7 separate regions of the Homo sapiens genome follow, and regions 1, 2, 3, 4, 6 and 7 are each linked to region 5. Evidence: fine-mapped expression QTL. A gene starts in region 5. Each other region holds a variant in brackets. All regions are shown on one strand. Distances are from middle to middle.

The links.
Region 1: its variant is fine-mapped to the expression of GEN1 in ovary (GTEx, PIP 0.96).
Region 2: its variant is fine-mapped to the expression of GEN1 in lung (TOPMed, PIP above 0.99). The same link has a PIP of 0.9 or more in whole blood.
Region 3: its variant is fine-mapped to the expression of GEN1 in monocytes after Pam3CSK4 (Quach 2016, PIP 0.95).
Region 4: its variant is fine-mapped to the expression of GEN1 in whole blood (TOPMed, PIP 0.95).
Region 6: its variant is fine-mapped to the expression of GEN1 in lung (GTEx, PIP 0.96).
Region 7: its variant is fine-mapped to the expression of GEN1 in whole blood (INTERVAL, PIP above 0.99).

What each region holds. Positions count from the first base shown.
Region 1 is chr2:16,975,525-16,979,604 of GRCh38, reverse strand. It overlaps LINC01866 (long intergenic non-protein coding RNA 1866), which reads right to left. Exons shown (of 5, transcript XR_001739184.2): 5 at 3,830-4,080. Among named protein-coding and RNA genes, the nearest start is that of LINC01866, 11 kb to the right of the region's middle. The variant CTA/A (reference allele first, on the strand shown) is at 1,982.
Region 2 is chr2:17,630,101-17,634,180 of GRCh38, reverse strand. All of the region lies in intron 2 of VSNL1 (visinin like 1), which reads right to left. The region is part of intron 1 of LOC124908054 (a long non-coding RNA gene); the gene reads left to right. Among named protein-coding and RNA genes, the nearest start is that of VSNL1, 91 kb to the right of the region's middle. The variant T/C (reference allele first, on the strand shown) is at 2,169.
Region 3 is chr2:17,689,353-17,693,352 of GRCh38, reverse strand. All of the region lies in intron 23 of SMC6 (structural maintenance of chromosomes 6), which reads left to right. Among named protein-coding and RNA genes, the nearest start is that of SMC6, 62 kb to the left of the region's middle. The variant T/C (reference allele first, on the strand shown) is at 1,553.
Region 4 is chr2:17,817,406-17,821,485 of GRCh38, reverse strand. MSGN1 (mesogenin 1) reads right to left here. Exons shown (of 1, transcript NM_001105569.3): 1 at 3,688-4,080. Among named protein-coding and RNA genes, the nearest start is that of MSGN1, 3.0 kb to the right of the region's middle. The variant A/T (reference allele first, on the strand shown) is at 1,976.
Region 5 is chr2:17,752,384-17,756,463 of GRCh38, reverse strand. It overlaps GEN1 (GEN1 Holliday junction 5' flap endonuclease), which reads right to left and starts at 2,326. Exons shown (of 14, transcript NM_001130009.3): 1 at 2,119-2,326. It overlaps SMC6 (structural maintenance of chromosomes 6), which reads left to right and starts at 2,654. Exons shown (of 28, transcript NM_001142286.2): 1 at 2,654-2,838; 2 at 3,400-3,486. RefSeq lists silencers at 2,539-2,678, 2,819-3,178.
Region 6 is chr2:17,796,875-17,800,954 of GRCh38, reverse strand. It overlaps LOC105373449 (a long non-coding RNA gene), which reads left to right and starts at 641. Exons shown (of 4, transcript XR_939762.3): 1 at 641-851; 2 at 1,195-1,316; 3 at 1,730-1,804. The variant A/G (reference allele first, on the strand shown) is at 2,230.
Region 7 is chr2:17,196,215-17,200,294 of GRCh38, reverse strand. No RefSeq gene overlaps it. Among named protein-coding and RNA genes, the nearest start is that of LINC01866, 230 kb to the right of the region's middle. The variant A/G (reference allele first, on the strand shown) is at 2,063.

The DNA of each region.
Region 1 (4,080 bases), 780 kb after region 5:
TGAGATGGAGTTTTTGCTCATGTTGCCCAGGCAGGAGTGCAATGGTGAGATCTCGGCTCACTGCAACCTCCACCTCCTGGGTTCAAGTGGTTCTCCTGCCTCAGCCTCCCGAGTAGCTGGGATTATAGGTGCCCACCACCATTCCTGGCTAATTTTTGTATTTTTAATAGAGACAAGGTTTCACCATGTTGGCCAAGCTGGTCTTGAATTGTTGACTTCAGGTGATCCACCTGTCTCGGCCTCTCAAAGTGCGAGGATTACAAGTGTGAGCCACTGCACCTGGCCAAGGGGTAATATTTGAATGGTACAATGTTACTGGGCCTCCAGCTTCTCCATGTAGAAGCATACAAAGAACTGGGGCCACAGTTTTGTGCTTTCAGGCTTTTTTTTTTTTTTTTTGTGAGACAGGGTCTTGCTCTATTGTCCAGGCTAGAGTACAGTACCATGATCATGGCTCACTGCAGCCTTGACCTCTTGGCCTCAAGCAATCTTCCTACCTCTCAGACTCCGGAGTAGCTGGGACTACAGGCATGCACCACCACACCTGGCTGGCTTATTTTTTGATTTTTTATAGAAATAAGGTTTCATTATGTTGCCCAGGGTAGTCTTGAACTCCTAGGCTTAAACAATTTGCTCATCTCTGCCTCCCAAAGTGTTGAGATTACAGGTGTGAGCCACCATGTCCAACCACTTTTAGGCTTTTTCTCAACAGGAAAGGGAAACTGCACCAGTGTTGTTTACTATACAGACTCTTGAGATTCCAGAAAGACTTTTCTGGTGGGCCAACTATCCTGGGCATTTTGTGCATTGAAGGAAAGGATTGCAAGTTCCTTGTCATTTCTGTGTTCCAACTCATGATGTCATGACAACTGTAGGACCACCTTTCCTGATGCCAGCCTCGGTTGTGAGAGGAAAACATTTCTCCTCTCCTATGGCTCTAACTCCTGACCCTTTCCCCTTATCTCTTGCTCTCACCTCCCCTATTTCCAGTGGCCAAGACTGTCCCTTGCAAAGCAGCTGCAGCATCTCCAATTTTCTGGTTTTTCAACATTTTTCCTGCCATGTCTATGACAGTCTTGAGTGTTCTCTTTCCAGGAGCAGTATTTATAGCTTTTGTTTCCGCACCACTGGTATTTTTCCAGTCTTGGAACCATTCCATTTATTTAGTTGAATGAATTGTCTTTTTCAACTCTTGGAATGTTTCCTTTGATTCTGAGTCTGCTTGTGGTGCTAAAATTTCTTAACAACCTGTTGGCCAAGGCCCCTTCTTTCTCTTCTGCAGAGGGAACCTAAAGCTGTCCTCTGTGAGAAAGAAATGACTGTGGAATTCATTCTTTTGGTCTTCCAGTTGGGTCATCTCTGCTTATCAATCCACACAGTGGAATGGACTAGAGGTGGCTCCTTCATACCAGAGTAGAAGCAACCTTATTTTCCAATATAAATTTATCATCTTTACTAGACTGAAAACATACTGGCCTTGGATAGAAATTAAGTAAAATTTTCTTCTTCTTCTTCTCCTTCTCCTTTGTTTTTGAGACAGAGCCTCGCTTCATTACTCAGGCTGGAGTGCAGTGGCGCAATCTCTGCTCACTGCAACCTCTGCCTCCCAGATTCAAGCGATTCTCCTGCCTCAGCCTCCTGAGTAGCCGGTATTACAGGTGCCCGCCACCACAGCCTACTAATTTTTGTATTTTTCGTAAAGACTGGGTTTCACTGTGTTGGCCAGGCTGGTCTTGAACTCCTGTCCTCAAGTGACACTCCCGCTTCAGCCTCCTAAAGTGCTGGGATTATAGGCGTGAGCCAGTGTGCCCAGATCTTTTCACTTTTATTGGTGGGCTTGTTTGTTACTGTAAGTTAAAGTAAGAGTCTTCAGAGAATGTAAAACAATTAATCCAGTGACTAATGGGATTAATAGTTTAGCAGTGATCCAGTTGTAGCCAAAAGAGTTAAGTGTTGAATCCCTTCTTGCATCTTACAAACT[CTA/A]CCACTGTATATTCATATGTCATCAAATTCTCATCTGTTCTAACCTTGCAGCCAGTATGGGAAGTGAGCTCTGATCTGTGGGAGGTCAAGGGTCAGTGGGCTGTTTCAACCCACTTTAGAATCTCTTCAGCAGTGTTACAGCAAGGTTTTATCCTAAAACATGCTTCACCATTAAAAAACAATAATCATTTGGATTTTTATTTTTCTTCCAGTATACCATAGTGTAATCTGCATGAGTAATGCTTCATCTTCTGAGCATGAAGAGAATATACTTCTTCCACAATACAATGTTTTGACTCCTTAGAAAATTATAACTTTTTCTTGGTTTGTTGTTTTTAACTTTATCATTCTCATGGGTCACTAAATGATGCTTCTGCAAAAGGTGGCACTCTTCCCCCAGATGCCTGCATGCAACCATCACTCCCTTAATTCACATCTCTGCTCAGATCCTACCTTATCAGAGAGACTTCCCACGACCCAATATATGAAGCTCCTCTCTCCAAGTATTATCTGTTCCTTTGATAATAGTAGGTGATCCAAGAGAGAAAAGTAGATGGATGAGGATAAGGGTAAAGCTGTTTTCCCTTTTGTGTTTTTTGAAATTTTTGAATGATATAAACATATTATACATTCTAAAAAATTTTTTTCAGTTAAAAAAAACTAGATCTAAAAGTGTATTCCTGTGTTCCCAAAGTTTTTTTTTTCTTTTCTTTTTTTTCTAGTTTCCAGTTTCTCCTGTGCTAATGAGATGGGGCGGTCTCACTTCATTCCACAGCTAAGCCTTGCAGAACTGCCTAACTCCATTCTGGAGGATGTTGCATGGCCCAAGCTCTAAGGGCAGGTGATCTGGTGACTTCAGTTTGAGTTTGGTTGTGTTGTAGGAAGAGGGAGAGAGGCTGTCTAGGCTAAAAGAGTGTACTGGTCTCCTATTGCCACTTTAACAAACTAATCCAAATATAGTGGCTAACAACAACAGAAATTTCTCTTACAGTTCTGGAAAACAAAAATCCAAAATGGGTCTCACTGGGTTAAAATCAAGGTGTCAGCAGGGATGTGTCCCTTTAAAGGCTCCTGGGAGACTACATATTATTATTAGCACACAAGCCAACATATCACACCCAGAATCTCAGGTTCATGCACCGATGTCAATAAATTCAACCCAATTCAATGATATATTCCTCTTAGTTTAAAATCCTTAGAATTCCCATGTATATCACTCAGTTTTCTGCCAATACAAATATAAAAATCTTGCATGTCTTTAGGAGTATGAGCCTTCTTCTATGCCAGCCTCTGTGCCTTATCCCCCTTGAGTATGCTGAGATCCGACTCTATTTCAACCTTTAGATGTCAGGAGGGATGGGTGTAGATCTTGAGAAAAGTAAAACCCTCCTCACAAAGCCATTGGCTTAGGTGACCTTATTACAAGCAAGAGAAGACTGGTCTATTCTGTTATGGAAGAACGGGCTGCATCTGCTGGTAAGAGAGCTTAAGAAAGATGTGGGGATTTGGCAGGGCGTGGTGGCTCACACCTGTAATCCCAGCATTTTGAGATTACAAAGTGGAGGCTGAGGTTGGGCGGATCACAAGGTCAGGAGTTTGAGGCCAGCCTGGCCAACATGGTGAAACCCCGTCTCTACTAAAGATATAAAAAATTACCTGGGCTTGGTGGCGCACACCTGTAATCCCAGCTATTCAGGAGGCTGAGGCAGGAGAATTGCTTGATCCCGGGAGGCGAAGGTCGCAGTGAGCTGAGATCATGCCATTGCACTCCAGCCTGAGTGACAGGGTGAGACTCCATCTCAAAAAAAAAAAAAAAAAAAAAAGATGTGGGGATTCAGTATTCTCAGCTTCATTCAGGTTTTTCTAGATACCCCATTCAAAGTCTCAGGAACCCAGTCTTTTCACAGAACTTCTAGGTTTCATTTGTAAAATGTAATGAATCTATAAATCCAAGGGTTTTTTATTTTGGTAATTGTGCAATGTATAGAATTAAATTATACTTTATTAATTATTTTATAAGGATTTTAGAAGCTTTTTATGACTAAGACTTGCACTAACAATTTAAAGCCTAGTGAACTTGGTATTTTTTTTTTTCAA
Region 2 (4,080 bases), 120 kb after region 5:
GCATCTGCAAGTCTAGGCCTTAACCTCTCTACTGCACGCTCTTTGATGCCCTCCTCCACCTTCTCCCCCACACTCCAGGATGAAAGCCACTCTGCTTAGTCCAGTCCCACAAGGCCCTTTTCGACTTGGGTCCTGCAAACCTCTCCAGCTTCATTTCTCCACCACCCTCACCTCCTCAGACACTCCAAGCTGGTGCCGATCCATGGGAAATCTTTCCAGAGTGCTTTTGCATGCTTTGCCCATGCTTTTCTCTTGCCCCTTCACTTCTTGCTAGCTCCTGTTAGTCCTTTATCACTCAGCTCAAGGGGCACTTCTCTGAGCCCCTTGTCTTCTCAGCCTGCTCTTTCCTTTCCACCCCATATTCCAACTCTCTCCCCTGCCTAAGCTGAGTTAAGGGCTTCCCCTCTGAGCAATGACAATACCCTGTATCGATGCACAGGGTCACTTGGGCCTTGTCTTGTCACGAGCTGTTTTATGCCTGCCCCCAACTCTGCTCTGACATCCTCCAGGGAAGGGTCACTCCTGACTCATGTCTGTATTCTTAGTGCCTGGAACACAATGGATATTCAATAAGTATTTCCTGACTAACTCGATAGGTGAAGGTGGCCTCTGCTAGATCCATCACATTCGGCTCTTACTTTTAATTTTTTTTTTTTCTTTCTGAGACAGAGTCTCACTCTGTCACCCAGGCTGGAGTGCAGTGGTGTAATCTCGGCTCCCTGCAACCTCTGCCTCTCAGGTTCAAGCAATTCTTGTGCCTCAGCCTCCAGAGTAGCTAGGATTACAGGCACTCACCACCATGCCCAGCTTTTTTTTTTTTTTTTTTTTTTTTGTATTTTTAGTAAAGATGGGGTGATATGGTTTGGCTGTGTCTCCACCCAGATCTCATCTTGAATTGTAGCTCCCATAATTCCTATGTGTCCTGGGAGGGACCCAGTGGGAGGGTCATTCCCACACTGTTCTCATGATAGTGAATAAGCCTCACGAGATCTGATGGTTTTATAAAGGGGAGTTCCCCTGTACAAGCTCTCTCACCTGATGCCATGTAAGACATGACTTTGCTCCTCATTCGCCTTCAGCCACGATTGTGAGACCTCCTTAGCCATGTGGCACTGTGAGTCAATTAAACCTCTTTCATTTGTAAATTACCCAGCCTCAGGTATGTCTTTATTAACATCATGAGAACAGACTAAGAAACAGGGTTTCACCATATTGGTCAGAGTGGTCTTGAACTCCCAGCTTCAAGTGATCTGCCTGCCTTGGCTTCCCAAAGGGCTAGAATTATAGGCATGAGTCACTGCACCCGGTGCTTTTCTTACTTTTAATACCAAATCATCCAAGAAGTATTTTTAATGCTTATTTCTGCATTTCATAGTTCTTCTCCAAAGGGTGATTTATTCAATGTATAACTGAAGGAAATATGCTGTGTCTATTTTTTAAGGCACTTTAATGAAAATAGCAATGCTTTTTTCTTACTCTATAGATAGTACACATTTACGAAGAAAAAATTTAAAACACAAATAAAGGAATAATTAGCCGAAAACCTACCACTCAGAGTTATTATTAAGAGTGATCATTGTTTGGCCAGGCACAGTGGCTCATGCCTGTAATCCCAGCACTTTTGGAGGCCAAGGTGGGCAGATCACGAGGTCAGAAGTTCGAAACCAGCCTAACCAACATGGTGAAACTCCATCTCTACTAAAAATACAAAAATTAGCTGGGTGTGGTGATGCATGCCTGTAATCCCAGCTACTTGGGAGGCTGAGTCAGGAGAATCACTTGAACCCGGGAGGCAGAGGTTGCACTGAGCTGAGATTGCGCCACTGCACTCCAGCCTGGGCGACAGCAAGACTCCATCTCAAAGCAAACAAACAAACAAAATCAAAAACAAAAACAAAAAAAAACAATGACCATTGTTCTAGGAGTTCATTGATTCAATGTGTATTTATTGAACACTGACAAAGTTTCTCACACTGGGGATACAGCAGTGAATCATACAAAAAACCTTACCTGGCCAGGTGTGGTGGCTCACGCCTGTAATCCCTGTGGGTGGAACAGTTAAGGTGAGGAGTTCGAGACCAGCCTGGCCAACATGGTGAAAAACCGTCTCTACTAAAAATACAAAAATTAGCCAGGCATGGTGGCATGGGCCTGTAGTCCCAGCTACG[T/C]GGGAGGCTGAGGAAGGAGAATTACTTGAACCCGGGAGGCGGAGGCTGTAGAGAGCTGAGATCATGCCACTGCACTCCAGCCTCAGTGACAGAGCGAGACTACATCTCGGAAAACAACAACAACAACAACAACAAACCTTACCTTCATTCTAGTCATTAAGTATGTACCTGTGTATGGTTCTGCATTCTTCATGTTTACACATACACGCATGTATATTTATAACTCTAGATTTATTCATTTGGTGCTACGTCATGAAAACCTTTTAGGTCACTGGCTTTAAATATATGACCCCCTTTTTAGTGGCTGATTAATATTCCATTATATGAATGTTCTATAATTTATTTAATCAAATCTAGAGACTCTGACAATGGTTTAAAACGTCTTCACTGTTATTAATACCTTAAAGTGTTTTATTTATAAAATTGATCTGGTTATCTCCTAAACATGGACTATGGGTGAAGGAATACACAAATCTTACTTGTGACCCATATTGTCAAACCACCATCCAATAGTTAACCAGAGTGCTAATGTGTGATGCACCCTTTACATTGCCTCTGATACCAGAACAATGATACAATATTATCCAACCATTTTTGCATTTCTCTGATTTCTAGTGAGGTTCACTATCTTTTTTATATCCTTTGGAAAAATCATATACAAGTTGCTTTTTTTTTCCTGTGCAAAAGTTTAGATTTTTATATGATCAAGGCATCAGAATTTTCCTAAATGGTGTTTGGTTTTGGTGTCATTTTGAAAGTCCATCCCCACACCGAGATTCAGAATATTTCCCTATGTTTTCTTCTAATACTTTCCTCTCTCTCTCATTTACCTTTGAATATTCACATTTAATTTGTGAATATAATGGCTAGACAATTGTTATAAGATTTAATGAAAAGTCCATTTTTTCCTTTCTGATTTAAAATGCCATTTTGGGCTGCGCACAGTGGCTCACGCCTGTAATCCCAGCACTTTGGGAGGCCAAGTCGGGCAGATCACGAGGTCAAGAGTTCGAGATCAGCCTGGCCAACATGGTGAAACTCCGTTTCTACTAAGAATACAAAAATTAGCCAGGCGTGGTGTTGTGTGCCTATAATCCCAGCTACTCAGGAGGCTGAGGCAGGAGAATTGCTTGAACCCAGGAGGCGGAGGTTGCAGTGAGCCAAGATCGTGCCACTGCACTCCAGCCTGGGCAACAGAGCAAGGCTCTGTCTTGAAAAAAATAAATTAAAAAAAAATAAAATGCCGTTTTGCCCCATATATGCGGGTGTATGTTTGATATGTTTGAACTAGTTATTATTTCTTTATTTGGTTGTCAATTTATTCCTCTGTTAACGGCATAGTATCTTAATTATTGCAAGCTTATAAAATATTTTAATATGTGGAAGTTATCATCTTCTCTCTTCTTCTTTTATTATTGAAAATATACTCTTCCAGAGGAACTTTAAAATAATTAGATCAAGTGGCAAAACAATGAAACAAAGCAAACTGTGATGAGATTTTGATTGAGATAGCTTTGAGCTGCTACATTCATTAGGGAGAGCTGGCATCTTTGCAGCACTGAGTCTTCCTATTCAAGAACAAGGAACATCCACTTGCTTATTTATGTCTCTCAACTGATGAGGCTTCTGCAGTGTGAACTGCCACCTCCCTTTCTCACAGAGCTGCAAGCCCTGCAGCTTTGGAGTAAGGGCATTGAGCCTGAGGGAATGACTCAAGAGGGCACTCTGGGCTAAAATTCCAGTGACAGTGGCAGGAGGCAGCCAAATGCCTAGGCAGATGAGGTGGGTCCATGGTGAAACCCTACCTCCAAGGTACATACTTAATTACTAGAAGACAAGGCAAAGACAGTTGAAAGCCCGAAATCCAAGCTACAAGTAAAATACACGGACGAGATTGAGAATCTATTTTCTC
Region 3 (4,000 bases), 63 kb after region 5:
TTCCATGGTGTATGTGTGCCACATTTTCCAGTCTATCATTGATGGACATTTGGGTTGGTTCCAGGTCTTTGCTATTGTGAATAGTGCCGCAATAAACATACATGTGCATGTGTCTTTATAGCAGCATGTTTTATAATCCTTTGAGTATACACCCAGTAATGGGATGGCTGGGTCAAATGGTATTTCTAGATCCCTTAGCAATCGCCACACTGACTTCCACAGTGGTTGAACTAGTTTACAGTCCCCATCAACAGTGTAAAAGTGTTCCTATTTCTCTACATCCTCTCCAGCACCTGATGTTTCCTGACTTGTTAATGATCGCCATTCTAACTGGTGTGAGATGGTGTCTCATTGTGGTTTTGATTTGCATTTCTCTGATGGCCAGTGATGATGAGCATTTTTTCATGCGTCTTTTGGCTGCATAAATGTCTTCTTTTGAGAAGTGTCTGTTCATATCCTTCGCCCACTTGTTGATGGGGTTGTTTGTTTTTTTCTTGTAAATTTGTTTGAGTTCATTGTAGATTCTGGATATTAGCCCTTTGTCAGATGAGTAGATTGCAAAAACGTTCTCCCATTCTGTAGGTTGCCTGTTCACTCTGATGGTAGTTTCTTTTGCTGTGCAGAAGCTCTTTAGTTTAATTAGATCCCATTTGTGAATTTTGGCTTTTGTTGCCATTGCTTTTGGTGTTTTAGACATGAAGTCCTTGCCCATGCCTATGTCCTGAATGGTTTGCCTAGGGTTTCCTCTAGGGTTTTTATGGTTTTAGGTCTAACATGTAAGTCTTTAATCCATCTTGAATTAATTTTTGTGTAAGGTATAAGGAAGGGATCCAGTTTCAGCTTTCTACATATGGCTAGCCAGTTTTCCCAGCACCATTTATTAAATAGGGAATCCTTCGCCCATTTCTTGTTTTCGTGAGGTTTGTCAAAAATCAGATAGTTGTAGATATGCGGCATTATTTCTGAGGGCTCTATTCTGTTCCATTGGTCTATATCTCTGTTTTGGTACCAGTACCATGCTGTTTTGGTTACTGTAGCCTTGTAGTATAGTTTGAAGTCAGGTAGCATGATGCCTCCAGCTTTGTTCTTTTGGCTTAGGATTGACTTGGCAACGCGGGCTCTTTTTTGGTTCCATATGAACTTTAAAGTAGCTTTTTCCAATTCTGTGAAGAAAGTCATTGGTAGCTTGATGGGGATGGCAGTGAATCTATAAATTACCTTGGGCAGTGTGGCCATTTTCACGATATTGATTCTTCCTACCCATGAGCATGGAATGTTCTTCTATTTGTTTGTATCCTCTTTTATTTCATTGAGCAGTGGTTTGTGGTTCTCCTTGAAGAGGTCCTTCACGTCCCTTGTAAGTTGGATTCCTAGGTATTTTATTCTCTTTGAAGCAATTGTGAATGGGAGTTCACTCATGATTTGTCTCTCTGTTACTGGTGTATAAGAATGCTTGTGATTTTTGCATATTGATTTTGTATCCTGAGACTTTGCTGAAGTTGCCTATCAGCTTAAGGAGATTTTGGGCTGAGAGGATGGGGTTTTCTAGATA[T/C]ACAATCATGTCATCTGCAAACGGACAATTTGACTTCCTCTTTTCCTAATTGAATACCCTTTATTTCCTTCTCCTGCCTGATTGCCCTGGCCAGAACTTCCAACACTATGTGGAATAGGAGTGGTGAGAGAGGGCATCCCTGTCTTGTGCCAGTTTTCAAAGGGAATGCTTCCAGTTTTTGCCCATTCAGTATGATATTGGCTGTGGGTTTGTCATAGATAGCTCTTATTATTTTGAGATACGTCCCATCAATACCTAATTTATTGAGAGTTTTTAGCATGAAATGTTGTTGAATTTTGTCAAAGGCCTTTTCTGCGTCTATTGAGAGTCATGTGTTTTTTGTCGTTGGTTCAAAACGGCAACTATTCACAATAGCCAAGATATGTAATCAACCCACATGTCCATTAATGAATGAAGAAAGAAAAATGTGTATACACACACACACACACAGACACACACACACAGAGACACACACACACACACACACCAGAATACTATTCAGCTTTTTTATAGCTTTTTTGTAGCTGAATAGTATTCTGGTGTGTGTGTGTGTGTGTGTGTGTGTGTATACACATTTTTCTCTCTTCATTCATTAATGGACATGTGGGTTGATTACATATCTTGGCTATTGTGAATAGTTGCTGTTTTGGTTTAGTGATATATCTTGAAGATCTTCTTATGTTGGTACATAGATATTTCCTCATTGTCTTTTATAATTTCACTGTATTTAATAATCTCCTTTTCATGGATAGCTGCGTTTTAATCTAATCTTTTGTTGTTGCAAATGGTGGAACACAATAAGTGAATGCGCATTATTTTATATGTACTCAGCGTTTTTTTTTTAGTAGTATAAACTCCATATGGTCAGATTTCCCTTTATAGGGATTGTACCAATTTTGCATTCCCATTAGCGATGTGTTAGAGTGCCTGTTTTCCTACAGCCTAAACAGCGTGTGGCCTTCTTAGATTCTTTTTTCTGATAGATTTCCCAAGAAAAAGAATTAACCGTAATTTTAATGTACGTTTCTCTTACATTGAGTGAAGTTGAACATCTTTTCATTTATTTATATTTATTTTTCTATGACCTTTTCATGTACTTTTTTGTCTATTCGGTACATTATGCAGATTTTAAAAATTAAATTAATTTTGTGATAATATATTCACAGGGAGTTTTTTTTTGTTTTTTTGGTTTTTTTGTTTGTTTGATTTTTTGAAATGGAGTCTTCCTCTGCAGGCTGGAGTGCAGTGGTGCAATCTTGGCTCACTGCAACCTCTGCCTCCTGGGTTCAAGCAATTATCCTGCCTCAGTCTCCTGAGTAGCTGGGATTACAGGCGTGCACCACCACGTGCAGCTAATTTTTTGTACTTTTAGTAGAGCTGGAGTTTCGCCATGTTGACCAGGCAGGTCTCGAACTCCTCACCTCAAGTGATCACCTGCCTCAGCCTCCCAAAGTGCTGGGATTACAGGCATGAGCCACCACACCTGGCCACAGGCAGTTGTTTAAAAACCATACTGTTTTAGTTATTGTGGCTTTATGATGTTCTTTCTGATTTTCATTGTTAATTTATTCAGTGAATTTAGTAACCTGAGCAAAAGCTATTTATTTTTCTGTGCAAAATCAATTTTAATTCCATGGTCTGCTAGTCACTCACATATTACATTTCTCTATTAGTTATAAAGTAAAATAATTGCAGTAATGATTTAAGAAGCAACTGGAGCTCAAACGAAATTTTAATCCTAGTGGATTTTCCCATTTGGAATTAATAATGTATTGAATAGAGAAATTGCCTAGATCCAATTGCCATAGACATGCATCCATTATTGTAAATACAGCTGGCTCTCTGTATCCACTGATTCCATATCCACAGGTTCAACCAACCACAGATTGAAAAGACTGGGGGAAAAAACTCAAAAACAACAAAAAAAGAACACAATAGTAAAAACTAATACAAATTTTTTAAAAAATACAGAATACAGTGTAACAACTATTTACATAGCATTTACATTGTCTTAGGTATTATAAGTAATCTCTAGAGATGATTTAAAGTATACAGGAAGATGTATATAGGTTATATGCAAATACTATGACATTTATAAAAGGGATTCATGGATTTTGGTATCTGCCCAGGGGGCCCTGGATCTAGTTCCTTTGCAGATACTGAGGGACAGCTCTATCAAAAATCATAAAACTTCAAACATTATTGAAAGGCCATATATATTTAGCATGTATACATGCACACATATACATACACTCACATTACTTTACTTTTTTTTCTGTACCATTCAAAAGTAGGTTTCATAAATCATGACCCTTTACCTCTTAGTACTTCAATATATTCCCTAAGAATAAGAGTATTATCTTACATAACCACAATACTGTTATAAAGTACAGGAAACTTAACATTGATACCTGTAGTCCAGTTCCAATGTTGACGGTTCTCCACGTC
Region 4 (4,080 bases), 65 kb before region 5:
AATAATGCCCATCTCCTAGGGTTGTTAGGAGAGTTACATGAAATAATAAATGTAGAAGTACTGACCAGAGTAGGCATATGTGAACTGTGGTTCTGCAACCCTTTCCCTGTCCAAGCACCAGAAATAACTTATTCCTAATCTTGAGCTTTGCCCAGGCCAGATGCTTTGAAACACTCCCTGGAGGATTGAGGGACCTATTCCAGCTATCCTCCCGATAAGGGAGGCGACTCCACTGGGGACTGGCAGGAGTCAAACACTCATATACAGCTGCCTATCGTGTACAGCAGTTGTGGTTGCAGCCTGGCAATCTGGGAAGGACTCAGTGGGAAAAGAGAGTAGAATGATAGATAACAGAGGCTAGGAAGGGGGTGTGGGTGAGACAAGGCTCTGGGCCACAGGACCCCTCCCAGGAAGCTGCCATCTTCTCCTGGTTTTGCAGACACCTACCCTCTAGTGGGTCCCTTAGAAGTCCTGAGGGCATACCCAGCTAATAGGTGAGTCTGTGACATTAAGGGATATTTTGAAACTGAGGACAGGAAATACCTCCTAATTCATTCACAGTATTTGGTGCCCAGGACAACCAAAATTGCCCAAGCTATTTATAAACCATTGTTAATACTTGAGCTTGAAAAATCAAAGCCAAGAGCATTTGAGTCCCACTCATTTAAAAACGGTGAGGAAAATAGCATTTGAACCGAAAGTTGATTTTTAGAACAGCTGGTTCTCCCTTACCCCAATACCCTCCTCCTTCTCCAACACAAAAAACACAACCCACACATACACATGCATGAACACATACATAGGTGAACAAATACGTATATATGTGCACACACATACGCTCTCACATGAACACCTGTACATGTATGTGATAAAGTTCCTTGGAGAAAGTCTTCATATTGTTCAATGTTTTCTAGCTTTTTCTCTAAAACACCAAATATATGAGAAGCTGATGAAAGTTTATATACATAGAATGACATCTTAGCAACTGTGCCTCACCACCACCCACCAATCCTTGATGACAAGCTACACAGAAATAAAATTAGATTCCTTCCACACACTATAGACAAAAATGAATTAAAGGTATTTTGAAGACCCATAAATAAATAATAAAACTGTAAGAGTATTTACAAAACATCAAGAGAACACTTGGACAACCTTGGAACTGGGGAAAATTAAGCAAGGGAGAAAAACACATAAGCCATGAAACAAAAACCAAATTTGATCATATAAAAATGAAAAGCTTCAAAAAAAATGATGCCATAATCAAGATCATAAGACATCATCACCGGGCGCAGTGGCTCACGCCTGTAATCCCAGCACTTTGGGAAGCCAAGGTGGGCAGATCGCCTGAGGTCAGGAGTTGGAGACCAGCCTGACCAACAGGATGAAACCATCTCTACTAAAAATACAAAATTAGTTGGGCGTGATGGCACATCCCTGTAATCCCAGCTACTTGGGAGGCTGAGGCAGAAGAATTGCTTGAACCTGGGAAGCGGAGGTTGCAGTGAGCCAAGATCACGCCATTGCACTCCAGACTGGGCACCAAGAGTGAAACTCCGTCTCAGAAAAAAAGAAAAAAAGACATCATCAAAACAAATATGCTGGAGGTCAATATGTTAAGTAAAATAAGCCAGGCACAGAAGGATAAATATTGCACGTTCTCACTCATATGTGAGAGCTAAAAAAACTTGATCTTATGGAGGTAGAGAGTAGAATGATAGCCTGGGCAACATGCTCTACAAAAAATACAAAAATCAGCCAGGCATGGGGGCACATACCTATAGTTCCAGCTACTCAGGAGGCTGAGGCAAGAGGATCGCTTAAGCCCAGGAATTTGAGGCTGCAGTGAGCTATCATCGCACCACTGCACTTCAGCCTGGGCAACAGAGTGAAAAAAAGAAAGGAAAAAGAGAGTAGAATGATAGGAAACAGAGGCTGGGAAGGGAGTGTGGGTGGCGGGAGGGGTGGGTAGGGG[A/T]TAAAGAGAGGTTGGTTAATGGATATAAGCATAGAGTTAGATAGATAAATAAATTCTAGTGTTAGATAGCAGAGTAGCGTGACTATAATTAACAACAATGAATTGTATATTTCAAAATAGCTAGAAGCAAGGACTTGAAATAGTCCTGAAATGATAAATATTCAAGGTGATGAATACCTAAATACCCTGACTAGATCATTACACCATTACACATTCTATGCATGTAACAAAATATCAAATGTACCCTATAAATATGAATAAATATTATGCATCAATAAAAAAGAAAAAAGAATACAATATAAAAAGATTGGAAGGAAATATTCCAGTACATAATATACAAAGAACTCTCTCAAATTAACAAGAAGATAAAGCAATAGAAAAATGGCAAATTTATAAACTAGCAAGTTTTAGAAGAGGAACCAAAATGAACAATGGTCACATAAAATAAAGACGCTCCACCTCAAATGACAGACAGGGAAGTTAAAATTAACACAACAATGAACAATTTTTATCCATTAAAAATTCATAAAATTGATAGTATCCAATGAAAATGTGGGGCAACTGGTTCTGTCACATAATACTAGGAGGAGTATACATAACTACAAACTTTTATAGAAGTGACATAACATTATTTATTAAAATTTAAAATGTGCATACTCTGATCCAATAATCCCATTTCTGGGAATTTTTCAAGCTAATGAACACATCAGTAGATAAAGCTAGTTGTCTATAACCTTTGTTATAGCATTTTTGTCATAAAAAACCTGAAAATAACTTAAAAATCATTGAAAAGGTGACTCGCTTAAGAAATTTTGCAGAATCTGTTCTATGGAACCTTGCTAGAACCTCTGTTTTCTGTTATACTTTTTGCATGTGTGACTCAGCAAGTCATGCATCTGTTTCCCCATCTATAAAATGAAGGTAATAATGGTATTTACACCACAGATTTATTTGTGCTAACTTGGAAGAACTTGTACTGTATATTGTTAAGTTAAAAAAGGAATTTTCAGGTTTTTTTCTTTAACATTTATGTATGCTTACATTTATTTGTATACGTTTGTATCAGCAAAAAAAATGGACAAGTTATATATATTTGTATATGTTTGTATCAGCAAAAAAAAAATGGAGAAGTAGAGAACACATCTACTGCTTTTGTAATTTATGTCACTAAAAAGAAAACAAAATCACCAATAGAAAAAAGATGATAGGAGACATGTACAACAAATACTAATGGTTAATAACCATAGGGAGAAAAATTCAGCCTTAAAAAATCTCACTAGTTTTCAGAACCTCCTTAATTCAAAGCCCCCTTTTCAATGTCCTGTGCCATTCAAATGAGCTAAACTGTGGGTGCTACAGATACCCACCCTAAGACAAGGCACCATGAAGAGTGGGTGTGTGTGTGATGGGTGCATGTGGGGGATCTGGAGTTGGGGGGAGGCAGATGGATAGGAGGGGAAGATGAAGAAGTAAATGCCTTTGGAGGGGTCAGAGATTGTTCAGTTCTAACACTGACCCTTTTAGTTATTCTTTATGGGATTCGAATCACTTTTTTTTTTTTTTTTTTCTGAGACTGTCTTTTTATTTGACAAACGGGTAAGTGAAAGGACTAAATAAGGTCCTGTTCATACCAGGCCCAGAACAAAGGACAGGGAGACCCTGCCCACCCAGCCTTGCTTCAGGTCCACCCTGAGGTGCTGTCTCCTCCTCCTCCTCCCCGTACCCTCCTTCCCTGTCACACAAGCTGTTTGCCTGTGAAGAGGAGGCTCTGGCTTTTGGAATCTTCACTGTCTTAACTTAGCCTGTCTGCCTGTGACTTTCCATTTATCATGACACCAGTGCCTTCCGCATTTAAGTGATTTTGGTCCCTGCAACAGCATGATTTCAGTCAAACACAAACACACACACATATACACACGAAATGAAAACAGGAGCACTAAAGCCCTTTACTTGGCACAAATCTTTCTAAATAAGAATCCAGATATCACACTGGATCCTATACAAAATACAGGTTTTGTTAGCAACAGAAGAAAAGGTCTCAACGCCAAAATGGCAAGAGATTAACACTTTTACATTATTGAAAAAAATGCATTTAAAATCACTGA
Region 5 (4,080 bases):
ATAAGTATATTGATGTCAATCTGTTCATACAATCAACATATATATATCAAAAGAAGTCTAACATCTTCATAATTTTTTAAGAATTAGCTGTCACACAAGTCTACTTACATGAATCAATGATGTAAGAACAACACATAGCAAATAACTTTATAAACCTATTAATGGCTTAAATTGATTTAGCTTACTTATTTGAATCAACAAAGTCAGAACACATAGCAAACCACTTCATAAGCAATGGACTTCAGATAGGAAGCCTAGGATTTGGGTTTTGAATATACCACTGATTAGGTGTATGACCTTGGGAAGACATTTAACCGTTCTACAAAATGACAGGTATTAAACCAGATGCATTACAAGATTCTAATATCTGTAATCTAGTATTTAATATTTGAATTGCATGACCAACTGGTAGCATGGAATAAAAAAAAATCACTCTATTTCAGAAAGTATTGCTTGGTATAATAGAAAGAACATAAATTTCCATCTTAAAGGACTTAAGAATCCACTTCCAGTTAAAACAAAAACAAGTCCTTTGATGTAACCATATGGTGCCCATAAATCAATTTAAGTTCCTAAAACTTCCTTAAAAGCTAATAAGCTTTTATTGGTTAATTATAAAACTGAATGAGGTGAGAAAAACACAGAACCTTGTTAATTTCACTAATGAATCAAATTTAAAGAACATAAAGAGGTCAGGGGCTTAACTGATGCAAAAATACACACTTTATTAAAGCAAGTTTTGCAATTTAGTTCAGCTTTAAGAAAAACATTAGAAAATTTACTTCGGAAAAGCAGAAAATGCTTAAATTTCCCAATTTCCATTTAGATGAGTATATATTCATATAAAGACTGGTAAATGGTGAAAACTATTTCAATGCAAGATTATATTTTAAGGGATTTACCACATAATCTCAGTAACTAATGCTGTTCTTTAAAATTATTTTTTCAATTTTATTTTCATATGAATTTAGCCTAAACGTTGAGGCATACTTCACGTTTATCAATAAATACTTATTAAATGTCTACTATTTAACAGGAAAGCTTTATAGGTGCTGGAGATACAATAATGGAAGATCAAGCCCTGCATTTAAAGACCTTAGTAGGGTAAGTGAGACTGCAGATAAAAAGGGCTTAAGAGGTAAGAAAGCAAGCTATAGTTGTATTTAGGAAAAAAGGTCCCCCACTTAGGAATCAAGGAACGGTTCCTGAAGCAAGTGACATGTAAGTAGGGACCTCCCAACCGTGTTTCCCATTGGTTACAACAAGGCCAGATGTTTTGGTCTATTTTGACTATGTCATATTTTTCGTTGATCCATGGCAAGGGCCACAGTAGGAATATAATATATATGTGATTACTTTTAGAAATAAAAAGTGACTTTGATGTAAAGAATTCCATTACCGGAGGCCAGAATTTCAACATCAATTTATTTGGAGGTGGAGTGAGGTGGCAGTCAATGCATTATTTTCCCCACACAGAAGAGAAGATTTTGGAGTATGAAAAGTAGGTTACTTGTTAGGTCAGCATATTCATGGGAAGGGTTGTGTAAAGACTGAAGCGGGAGTGTGGGGTTGAGAAGGGCGCTGAAACCTAAGCCAAGGAAGTTAAGACTTCATTACTTCTGACGTTTATTTAGGGGGTTTACACTCTAGGTTACCGTGGGGGAAAGACTGATTGTAAATAACTACAATACCTTAAAGTAATTACTATAACAGAACTATATCCGAAATACAAGGTTAACACGGAAAAGGGAACACCCAACTGTGCCTATGGGGACCAGGGAGGGCTCTCCCGGGATGGCTTTGAGCGAGGCGTGGGAATTATCCCCATCGCATGCCCGGGGGAAGCACAGCGGGACCCAGCAGCTTCGGCCAAGCGCAAGCGGCCGGAGAACGCGCAGCTTTCCCGAGGCGGGGTGACGCAGGGCCCTCGCGAGTGGAAAACAGGGGCCAAGTCGCGGCCTGGCGGCTCGGTTCGGACTTCCTACTTTATTCAAAGGGAGTCATTGAAGGCGTTTTCGGAGGAGCAGCGAACAAAGAGCTCGTCCGTAAGCCAGATGGTCAAAGGAATCAGTGGGAGGACCCGGGCGGCGCCGTCTCTCCACGTCCCGCGGGACTTACCCGGACAACCCTTCCTCCTTGGCTCTGGAAGAAGCCCCTTCGTCATTTACCAGTTTGGCCTGAATCCTAACTACTGTGCCTCCAAATTTCTGAATTTTCTCAAAAGGAAAAAAAAAAAGGAAAGTCCTCTTTCTTTACCCAAGCAAAGACTAGCTCCCCGGGCTCAACCGCCAGGCCCAGGAGCACCAGGAAGCGTTTCGAATCCAGCGCCGGGCCCGCGCGGCCCCGCCTCTTCCGGGAAGTGACTGACCCCTTTCCCCCAATGGGGCCCGCTCGGCTTTCCCTTGCCGGCTCCCAGCCGGCCTAGCGGACGCATGCGTAGACCAGCTGCCGGGGGCGCTCAATTATCTTTCCCTTTTACTTAGGCAAATCACTCACCTCCCCCGAGTCCGGTCACTGCGGAGCCGCCCGTGCCTACCAGCTTCCCCCACCCGCTAAGGGGCACTTCCGGCCTCTCAGACTCCGGCGGCGCGAAACCCCGCAACTGCGCAGGCGCGGGCGGAGCCCGAAGGGAGGGAGGGCGGGGCGCAGGCGCGGTTAGTACCGCGGTGGGCGCCGGGGCTCCCGGGAATCTACCTTCTCCTGCGGCCGGCACGCGGTTCCCAGGGGGCCAGCGGCGGTCAGCCGAGGTCGAGACGCCCGCAGGGTGGCCTTAGCGGCCGGTCGTACCACGGCAGCCCCGCCGATCAGGTTCCTTTGGGAGACTTCGACTTGTTGGCGGTAGGGTGAAGGCGCGCGCTGTCGCTTTCCCTTGCTCCGGGGTTCATCCTCCGCCCGCTGCCCCCTTGGCTGGCGACCCCCAGCCACCCGGGAGAGGCAGGGTCAGCTGAGCTGCGGCGGTGTTCATGGTCGTCCTTGCGGGCCCGGGCGGGAGATGTCCGTTCCTCGGGCGGGTCGGGCGGCCGGCGGCACCTTCGCGCGCTCTCCGAGGCGGCACCGGTCTCCTGAGCCGCGGGAAACCTGGCGTCTGCTCCGGGCCGTCCCCTCCCAGGCGGCCGTCCCCTCCCAGGCGGCCGTCCCCAGACTCTCCCGGGCTGTGGCGAATAACTGTAAAGCGGGGAGAGGTCTGGGGAAAGCTGGGGTAGGGAGTGGCTCTTAGCATGAGTCTGATGATATCTCGCAGGCGGCAACTGGTGTGTTTAAAGGGTGTATGCAAAGATCACTGAAATCGGATTTGTCATTAAAGCCCAGTTTTACGAAAATGCAAATTGTATTACCTAGAAAAATTAACATGTGTTCAAAGGTTTACTGATGGCATTTCTCTGCCCTCATTTCTTACAGAAATGAACCGGAGAAGAATCCCAATTGGGAATTGCGGAAAACAGGACTCTAGGGTAGAGAAAGGTTGTAGAACCAATAGGGTTTGAGGTAATACTGTGAAAATTCTTAGAGCAATCATTTGGTGTTTGAGCCCTCAAGACAGAAGTTTTGTGAGCGCTTATTACTCTGCATATGTCACGAGTAGTAGATTAAAAGCCAGTGTTTTAAAGGCAAACTTCTCAGTAATATATATTCAAAGGAAAAAAGAAAAACCCAAATCTCCTGACTTTTATATGGTTGCAGTGTGATCTTTTAACATGTACAATAGTATATACAGTGGCATGCAGTTTGTTCCATGGGTGTGTGGGTAGAGAGGGAACATATTAGAACTTCTATTTAGATTTATTTCATTTGATTTCTACGTGAAACATAGGGTATTAATTTTATGTTGGAACATGTATTTCAAATTTCTTTTGCTTAATGGGTGCAAGTACAAAACGTTTGGAGGCCACTAGTATATTGCCTAAAAGCGTGTATTTATATCACAAAAAGCCAGAATTGTGTGACTCTGAGCAGGTTGGTACCACCTCTTTAAGTTTCAGTTCTTCTTATGCAAGTTGGAAGAAATAATACAGTTATCAGTGCATCCTCTGTATCCGTGGACTCAATCAAGGGACTGAAAATATTTCAGAGGAAAAAAAG
Region 6 (4,080 bases), 44 kb before region 5:
TACACTGTCCATATACCACATTTTCTTTTCTTGGCCTTTGCCTGGCTTGTGTCCCTCACTCAACTGTCCCTTCCTCTCCCTTGACCTCTCAGATTCTACCACTCCCGCTAAGCCAGGGCCAACTGTTTTCTCCAGAAACACTCTGCCTCCTCCAGTTCTCAGTGACCAATTATCTGGATGCCCACAGAAGCTTACTGTAGTGTCCTATATTTTCTAGCAATTTTTTCACTTTAAACATAGAAACAAGGACCTTAATAATTAATAGTACAAGAATGCTGTCATATAGTTTGTAAAAGATTATCATATCGATTACATCTTTGGAGCATCACAACAGTCTCATGAGGTGGGTAATGGTTGTTATCTCTGGAGAGTTCAGAAAACCAAAGTTCAAAGAGGGAGGTTTTTTGTGCTTGCTTATGGTAAAACTACCAGCAAGTGGCAGCATTAAAAGACCGTACCACTGGTAAAAGGCATAGGGGGTTCCCTAAAACTCGAAACAGAGGAGTTTAATGAATGGCTGTCTTTGTTGTCTAGACCCGAGGGAGGGACAAGACAGTGGACTTTAAAGAACAGCTGCACGTGGAGCTGTGACTGTCATCCACACACTCAGATAAATGGTTGGCTCATTATTGCAGCTGCTGCTGGCTTTAGGGAGCTGGACAGCTGTTGCCAGGAGATGGATTCAAACAGAACAGAGAAAACGGAATCCTGTGATAATGACTGTGCCTGTATGTATGGACACGATGTTCTTTCTTCTCATAGCTCAAAATGTTCTAAAGATAAAATCTAATGATTTCTTATAGGAAGGCTAGGCTTGGTGGGTACAAGTAAGAAAGCCAAGCAGAGAGAAGGTAAGTGTCTCAACTCGCCTTTCCAGGGCATTCTCAAAAATGAAGACTTTTGGGGGGCTACACGGCCCTTTCAATAATTTGTGAGAGCATTTGTGATAGGCTCTCCAGAAGCGTATTCCTGGCAGAGCTGGGCAACACTAGCAGTGTCTGTGCTAAGGACAGACGAAAGGATCAGAGACAATGCCCTCACTCCCCTCCCCTCCCTTCTCCTCTCCTCCCTTCCCTACAATACGTACCTCATGGAGCTTAGCATTTTGTTCTCATGCTGTAGGGACTGTGCCTGCTGATGACTCCTTGGCCTGTTTTCTCATTGATATGTTTGTTATTCATCTTGTCACTAAAGCTTCCTGGTCCTTCTCCACCTTTCCCTTTCCTCCAGTCTGGACTTTGCCTTCTCCACCTCCTTGGAAGACAGGCTGCTCATCCCATTGTGGTGTCTCGGCTGGTGTATGTTTTCTGCCTAGGGTGAGTGGTGCCATCCTACTGCCTTTCCAAATCCTAATTGTTTTTTCTGATCTACTCTGACTCCCAGCAGTCACCACTTCGTGGTCTTGATGGCCTCTGTTGTGCTTAGAGTTGGTGCTGCACAGCCCAACACAGGATTTCCTCCTATGGGAAAGTCCCCTCAATTAGACTAGAAGCAGGGACAGGAAGGAGGACCTGCCCTTCTGCTGATCACCCTCAGCTGCCCAGCACTGGCTCTGTATGTGTGTGTATTCAGCACCCACTTGCTTGAGAATCTTTCTTTCTCTACTTTTTTAAACTCACTTTTCTGATTTAAATTATCCTGTTTTATGATATGAACTTATAGTTATGAAATAGTTACGAAGTTACGTGGAGTACTTTCCATGCATTTTGATTAGTACTTTATCTCACAGCTTAATGGACAGCACGAGGAGGTAGGGACTGACGTTACCCATGTTTTACAGTGGAAGAACCTGAGGCTTAAAGAGGTAAGATAACTTGCTGCAGGTCACACGCTGGTGGTCCAAATGCCTTAACTGGTTGCTACAATGCCATGCATAAACCAAGTTAAGAGTTGTAGCATAATGAACGTTTCAAATGAATTGGTGGGCTGGCATTTGGGAAACAGAGTGTTCCTCTGCAAAGGCTGGGCTCCTGCCACCATATCCTGGGGCTTCATCTGGGAATGGATATGGTCCAACCCAGGGTTTGGTCCTCCTTAGGTGTTGAGGTGGAAAGCATTACACTGCTGGTGACAACCAGCTTGGGGGGTTCCAAACTCTAGTCCTTGCAGCTCTGTATGCTGATTATTTGACCTCAGAGGATCTAGGAAACAGGGCTGAAACTCAGGTTTTCTCAGGAGATGTCTGTTTCCCGAAAAGCTACCTCAGAGAAACTTACATCTGTGGGCACT[A/G]TCTTGGAGGCAATTCTGTGTTGGCGAAAGTGATCGTCCTTTTTCCTAATTGAACCAATTATGGTTGAATGATGAGGTAAGCTAATCAATGAACTCTCCTGGGAACCCTCGGCCAGAGTGTGAAATGGCACAACTTGTTTTCAGAAGACATCTTTGCTGAAAATACATTCTGGCTGCAGCTGTTTTTTAGAGATTTAAGTGATCACATTACATCGTAATCAAATCCTTTGGCAGCCAGTATTCTCCAGGTGGCTCAAGGCAACCTGCATAAAGCAGGCAGAACATGTGGCTCAGAGCCACCATTACCTGTGCCTACAGCATCCAGTCCTGCCATGCAGGATGAAGGAGGTAGCAGGCACCTGCCTCTTTGGCCTGATTGGCATTTTCTGCTCCCCGCAGTGTCCTGTGCTGAACATCTTCCCACTCAACTCCTCTCATAGGAAGCCTGCTCTGGATGGCTTTGCCCTCCATTTTTTTATTATTATTATTTTGAGACAGAGTCTCGCTCTATCACCCAGGCTGTAGTGCAGTGGCATGGTCTCGGCTCACTGCAACCTCCGTCTCCCAGGTTCAAGCAGTTCTTGTGTCTCAGCCTCCTGAGTAGTTGGGACTACAGGCATGTGCCACCACCGCCCGGCTAATTTTTGTATTTTTAATAGAGACAGGCTTTCACCATGTTGGCCAGGCTGGTCTCGAACTCCTGACCTCAGGTGATCCATCCTCCTCAGCCTCCCAAAGTGCTGGGATTACAGGCATGAGCCACCATGCCCAGACAGCTTCACCCTCCTTAAAACTGATGTATCTCTTCCCTACTTTTATATCCTAAGATCCTGAGCTTTAAAATAGCTAGCCAAACGAAAACACCAATGGAGACTCTTTGGAAGGGACTGTGCTCAGTCTGAGGACCCAGAGCCAAGTCACAGACATGACCTCAAAAGCCAGTACTGTGCTCTTCCACATGGCATCCACTGGCCACGTGTGGTGATTTAACATGTGAAATGAAGTCTCAAGGCTGAGATGTGATGCGAGTGTATAATACACACTAGATCTCAAAAACTTAGTAGAAATAAAAAATGTAAAATATCATAAAAAGATTTTAAAACTACATAAAAAGAAAAAAAATTTCAAAAGAAATAAAGACAACAAAACAAAAACATAAAATATCTCACTCATGATTTTTGTATTGATTACATGTTGAAATAACATTTTGAAATATCGTGTTAAATCGAATATAGTATGAAATTAATTTCACCTGTTTATTTTTTTTTTAAAGTGTGGCTAACAGAAAAGTAAAGATATATGGTTGGCATTATATTTCTTTTTTTATTATACTTTAAGTTCTAGGGTACATGTGCACAACGTGCAGGTTTGTTACATATGTATACACGTGCCATGTTGGTGTGCTGCACCCATTAACTCATGATTTACATTAGGTATATCTCCTAATGCTATCCCTCCCCCTTTCCCCCACCCCACGACAGGCCCCGGTGTGTGATGTTCCCCTTCCTGTGTCCAAGTGTTCTCACTGTTCAATTCCCACCTATGAGTGAGAACATGCAGTGTTTGGTTTTTTGTCCTTGCGATAGTTTGCTGAGAATGATGGTTTCCAGCTTCATCCATGTCCCTACAAAGGACATGAACTCATCCTTTTTTTGTTAAATGGCTGCATAGTATTCCATGGTGTACATGTGCCACATTTTCTTAATCCAGTCTATCATTGATGGACATTTGGGTTGGTTCCAAGTCTTTGCTATTGTGAATAGTGCCACAATAAACATACGTGTGCATGTGTCTTTATAGCAGCATGATTTATAATCCTTTGGGTATATACTCAGTAATGGGATGGCTGGG
Region 7 (4,080 bases), 560 kb after region 5:
AATATCAGTGTAAACAGAGAGCTTGTCTCCCCCAAAATGTCCTGATTATCCAGATTTTCTGGGTAATTTTCTGCTCTCTGAAGGCATCCTGTACTTAACACTATCATAATATTTTCATGTCATATTGGAATTATTGCTTGTGTCTCCCCCCATTTGACTGAAAGGGAAATACCCTTGAACATGAGGGGCATTACTTGTTTTGCATCTGAATTCCTAGCAAAATGTGAAAATAGATCAGAAGCTCAATAAAGTTTTGACCTGAACTTGACTGCATACAGTCAGTATGCTTTCTTGCTTAGACCAAAAAACTTCCATGTTTTTTTTCAAGTACCTGGAGCGGCTCCCAGACCTCATTAGTCTCCTCTCAAGCATCCGCTCAACCTTGCCCAAGGAAAAGTGCATTATATCCTTTTAATACAGAGAGGAAAGGAACCTCAGGGATCAAGTTCAATGCCTTTCATTATTTGAATTTTAAAGTCATCTTGACACGGTTATGGAATCCTGGATTTGTGAGAGAATTATTGGGTTCCAGATCTAAAATCACCAGGATTTATCAAGTATGGTGCCTGACGCATAGTAAGTATTTTTTTAATGCTTGTTCCATTAAAGTAACCGAACCACATCTTATATTTGGCAATTTGATTACCTGCTCTGAGCTTTGTTTTTAATATGTGTACAACACAAATTATATCACAAGGTAAAATAAATTCGCCAAGCTTTAAGCTCCCTAGAGTGTTTTACAGTGATTTCTGAGAGTTCTACATGGTACATCTCAGATGCTCAGAAATCCTTTTCTCTTTCTTCAGCCTCCTCCTTCAGCTGCCCTGAGGCTGCCTTTGCTGGCTGCTTCTGCTACTGCTGCTCTGAGAAAGGGAACCGTGTTCTTGGTGTTGTGCTCTATCCCTTTAACTTCTCACTGGTCTGCAGAGACCAGGCAGTATCAGTTAATTGGATTTTATCAAAAATCCTCTGATACTATATGAGGGACACAATCTAGAGAATCATATGCAGCCCTGCAGCTTTCTCCAGCCAGTCACAGAGTTGGTATTCAAAAACTAAGAATTACTGATGTGCTCAGTAATAGAAGCACTCTGAAACAAGAAAGCAGATGTCCCAATCCAGACCAATTTTCCTCTTGATGAAGCATTAGAGATTGAGTTCAGAACCACATTTTTATCCTTCATAGTCCATTGTCAGTAATCATGTAACGCGCTCTTCATGGGTCTCATTCCTATACATTTCAGAATGTAGCTTCTATTACTCTCAATCAGTCTTTTTATCATCTTCTCCAAATCTAGCTAAAGACTTCCTTCCAGGTATGGTTATAAGTAAACACCTTGACCTTGTGAACCACACCTATTAGTGCCACAATTCTGGTGCTCAGATAAACATCTTTTTGTACAATGCTACATTAGCTTGACTTATTTCTGTCTGGGTGTGCACTACATAACACAGGATACTGTGTTGGATAAACTGTGAGTGACCTTCTGGAAATTAATAGTCAATTAAGTGAGATGTACCTAGGATTATAGTTAATATTTTGTAATGAAAGTACAATAGATTGGGGAGGGGAGAAAAGGGAATTAGTTTGGATGGATAATGTGGGGACTCTTACGCAGGGTCTTAAAGGATGTGTAGGGAGTAAGAAAGGCTTGAGCAGATTCGATGGGCTGATGAGTTGAGAGTATATTCAGAAAATGTCAAGTAGGCTGATATAAATGAATTTATGAGAAGGGGCTTTGGGAGAGAGGGTAGTGTGTTAAAAGATGAATCTAGAAGGTCATTTGAGGCCACCTTAAATGTGGAGAGTTTTACATTTCACAATTGGAAGTACGAATCAGTTTGATTGTTCTAAGAAAGACTGAGTTATATGCCAGGAAGAGCAGTGGCGTTTTAGCAATAGTTGGCAGTTGTCAGAAAGCCTTTATGTGATTTTTCCTTTTCTGTGGCCTTTGTAGGTTCAGAGCCCAATAATGAGCCTTGGGTAATTTTCAAGGAAGCAATGACCCTGTGCCTTACACCTTGGAGCCACAGTGGATCTGAGGTGGTAAGGGTGAGGTGA[A/G]CCAAACACCAAAGCCAGAGAAAATCAATGGCTGTAAGTAACAGCAGCCACAGAGCTGCAGATTGCTCTAGTGGCTGCTGCATCGATTTCAGCTCCAGCTTCTAATTGCTGCAGTAGGCAAAATGCATGCTTCACTTTTGAATGTTTAAGGCTCTGTGGATTTTCCTGGAGCATGAGCTAGAGCTTTTTGTTTCCAGTGCTTCTATATATTGCTCATTTGAGCATTCTGCTAATCCCTGACCTGTGTGAAGCTTCTCCATTTCACGCTTATGCTCTATCTTCCAGGACACAATGTAGTTTTCAAGGACAATGACCACGGCTTAGATGTTCTTGTTTGTCCCATGGGGCTAGGCACATTTTCAGTGGACAATCCTTGATGAACTGAATTAAATGTCAATTTAAGTTGTGGTTATTATTGAAACATTATTGGTATGATATGAAAGACATTTTTAATCAGGAAATGAAAGCACTCAGAACCCCACTTCTGTACCACAATAATTGTATCCCTTTTTTCAAAATCTTTGATAGCTTTTGGTCATTTTCATGCCCATCTTGACATAGTTGCAATCCATTCATTCATTTATTTAACAATTCTTTGCTGAGTACATATTAAGTATGAAGCATTAATGATCAGATATTATAGAAAATGCAATTAGTAGGGACTGATAGTTTTGAAGATTTTATTCTCTTGATGTTATATCAAAATATTATACATATTATTTTATAACTTTTATAAAAGTTGGGGAAACAAACCTGGTATCTTCCTTTGCTCATAAGCCAGATGTGGTGTTACAGAGAACTAGAGACAAGTGCACTTAGACCACCCTGTAATGGGGTTTCAATTCATAGCCACTCTCATCAACTCAAACAGGTCAGGCAAGGACTGGTCTGATAGCTTTGGCTGTCAGTGGATCCATGGTAGATAGTGATGATGACTGACACTCATCTCTTATAATTGGCAGTGCATAATAGATAAAACAATTCTTACTGACAGAAAATGTTCACAACCAAAAATTTACATGAAAGCTAAGTTCAGACTTTCATGATTAATGCCCATATTTTGGGATTATTGAAACCTGAGAAAATAGGTCACAGAGGATTTTAACTATGTGGACATGAGAGCAAATTCAACTCTTTTACCTACCTACCCTTCCTCAAATAATCCCTGTCATTGAACAAAGATATTTCTACCTAAGTGGGTTCCCTTCTTCCCATCTTAGAGTGTCTGGGTTGCTCTAAACCAGCTGAGCAGGACAAAGTTGGAAAAAGCTGACGGCTATCCTAATGCTACTAATCCCTGCCCTTGGATACCGATGATTCAGATGAGCATCTGAGGAGGAAACATCCAAAGCTAGTTACCTGAAGCTCAGCTTTCTCTTCTTTAGAAAGTGCTGACATTTCTGCTTGGTTGATATGTAGCCCACATGATCTTAGACGTGCATGATCAAACAATAATGCCCTGGGAAGTCATATTCTTAGTAACTGTCATGTTGCTGTCCAAGTCGGGATTTACTTTCATTTTGGACCCTGACAAGGATTGGCTTTCCTAACCAAAAGAAGAATTAAGACCTTTTCCCATATCTGTTGAGCGCAGGTACTGATCAGAGTACAGAGAATGTACTGACCATGAGGGGCAGAACTCAGAAAGAGGAAGAGGGACAGGGCAATACAGCACCACTGAGCAGCCCTATACTTAGCAGTGAAGGGAAGTCAGGCAGTTTTATGGATGACATACTGGAGGAAAAGATAGCTTTGCATGGTAAAACTTCAACAGCCCAAGAAATGTTTAGCTTTATTTTCCATAGATTGTCTACAAAGAATTAGGCATTCGTTCAAAGTATAAAATTAGAATATTAAATATACTTTTATATAACACACTTTGGGCTGCCCAGATATTTTTATATGAGCCCCCTAAAGATTTATGTCACTTTGTTTAAATTTTTGAGCTAAACAAGCTTATTAGATTTCTAGTGATAAAGAACTTGAGACGAAACCCAGTAAATGCCCATTTTTGTTGC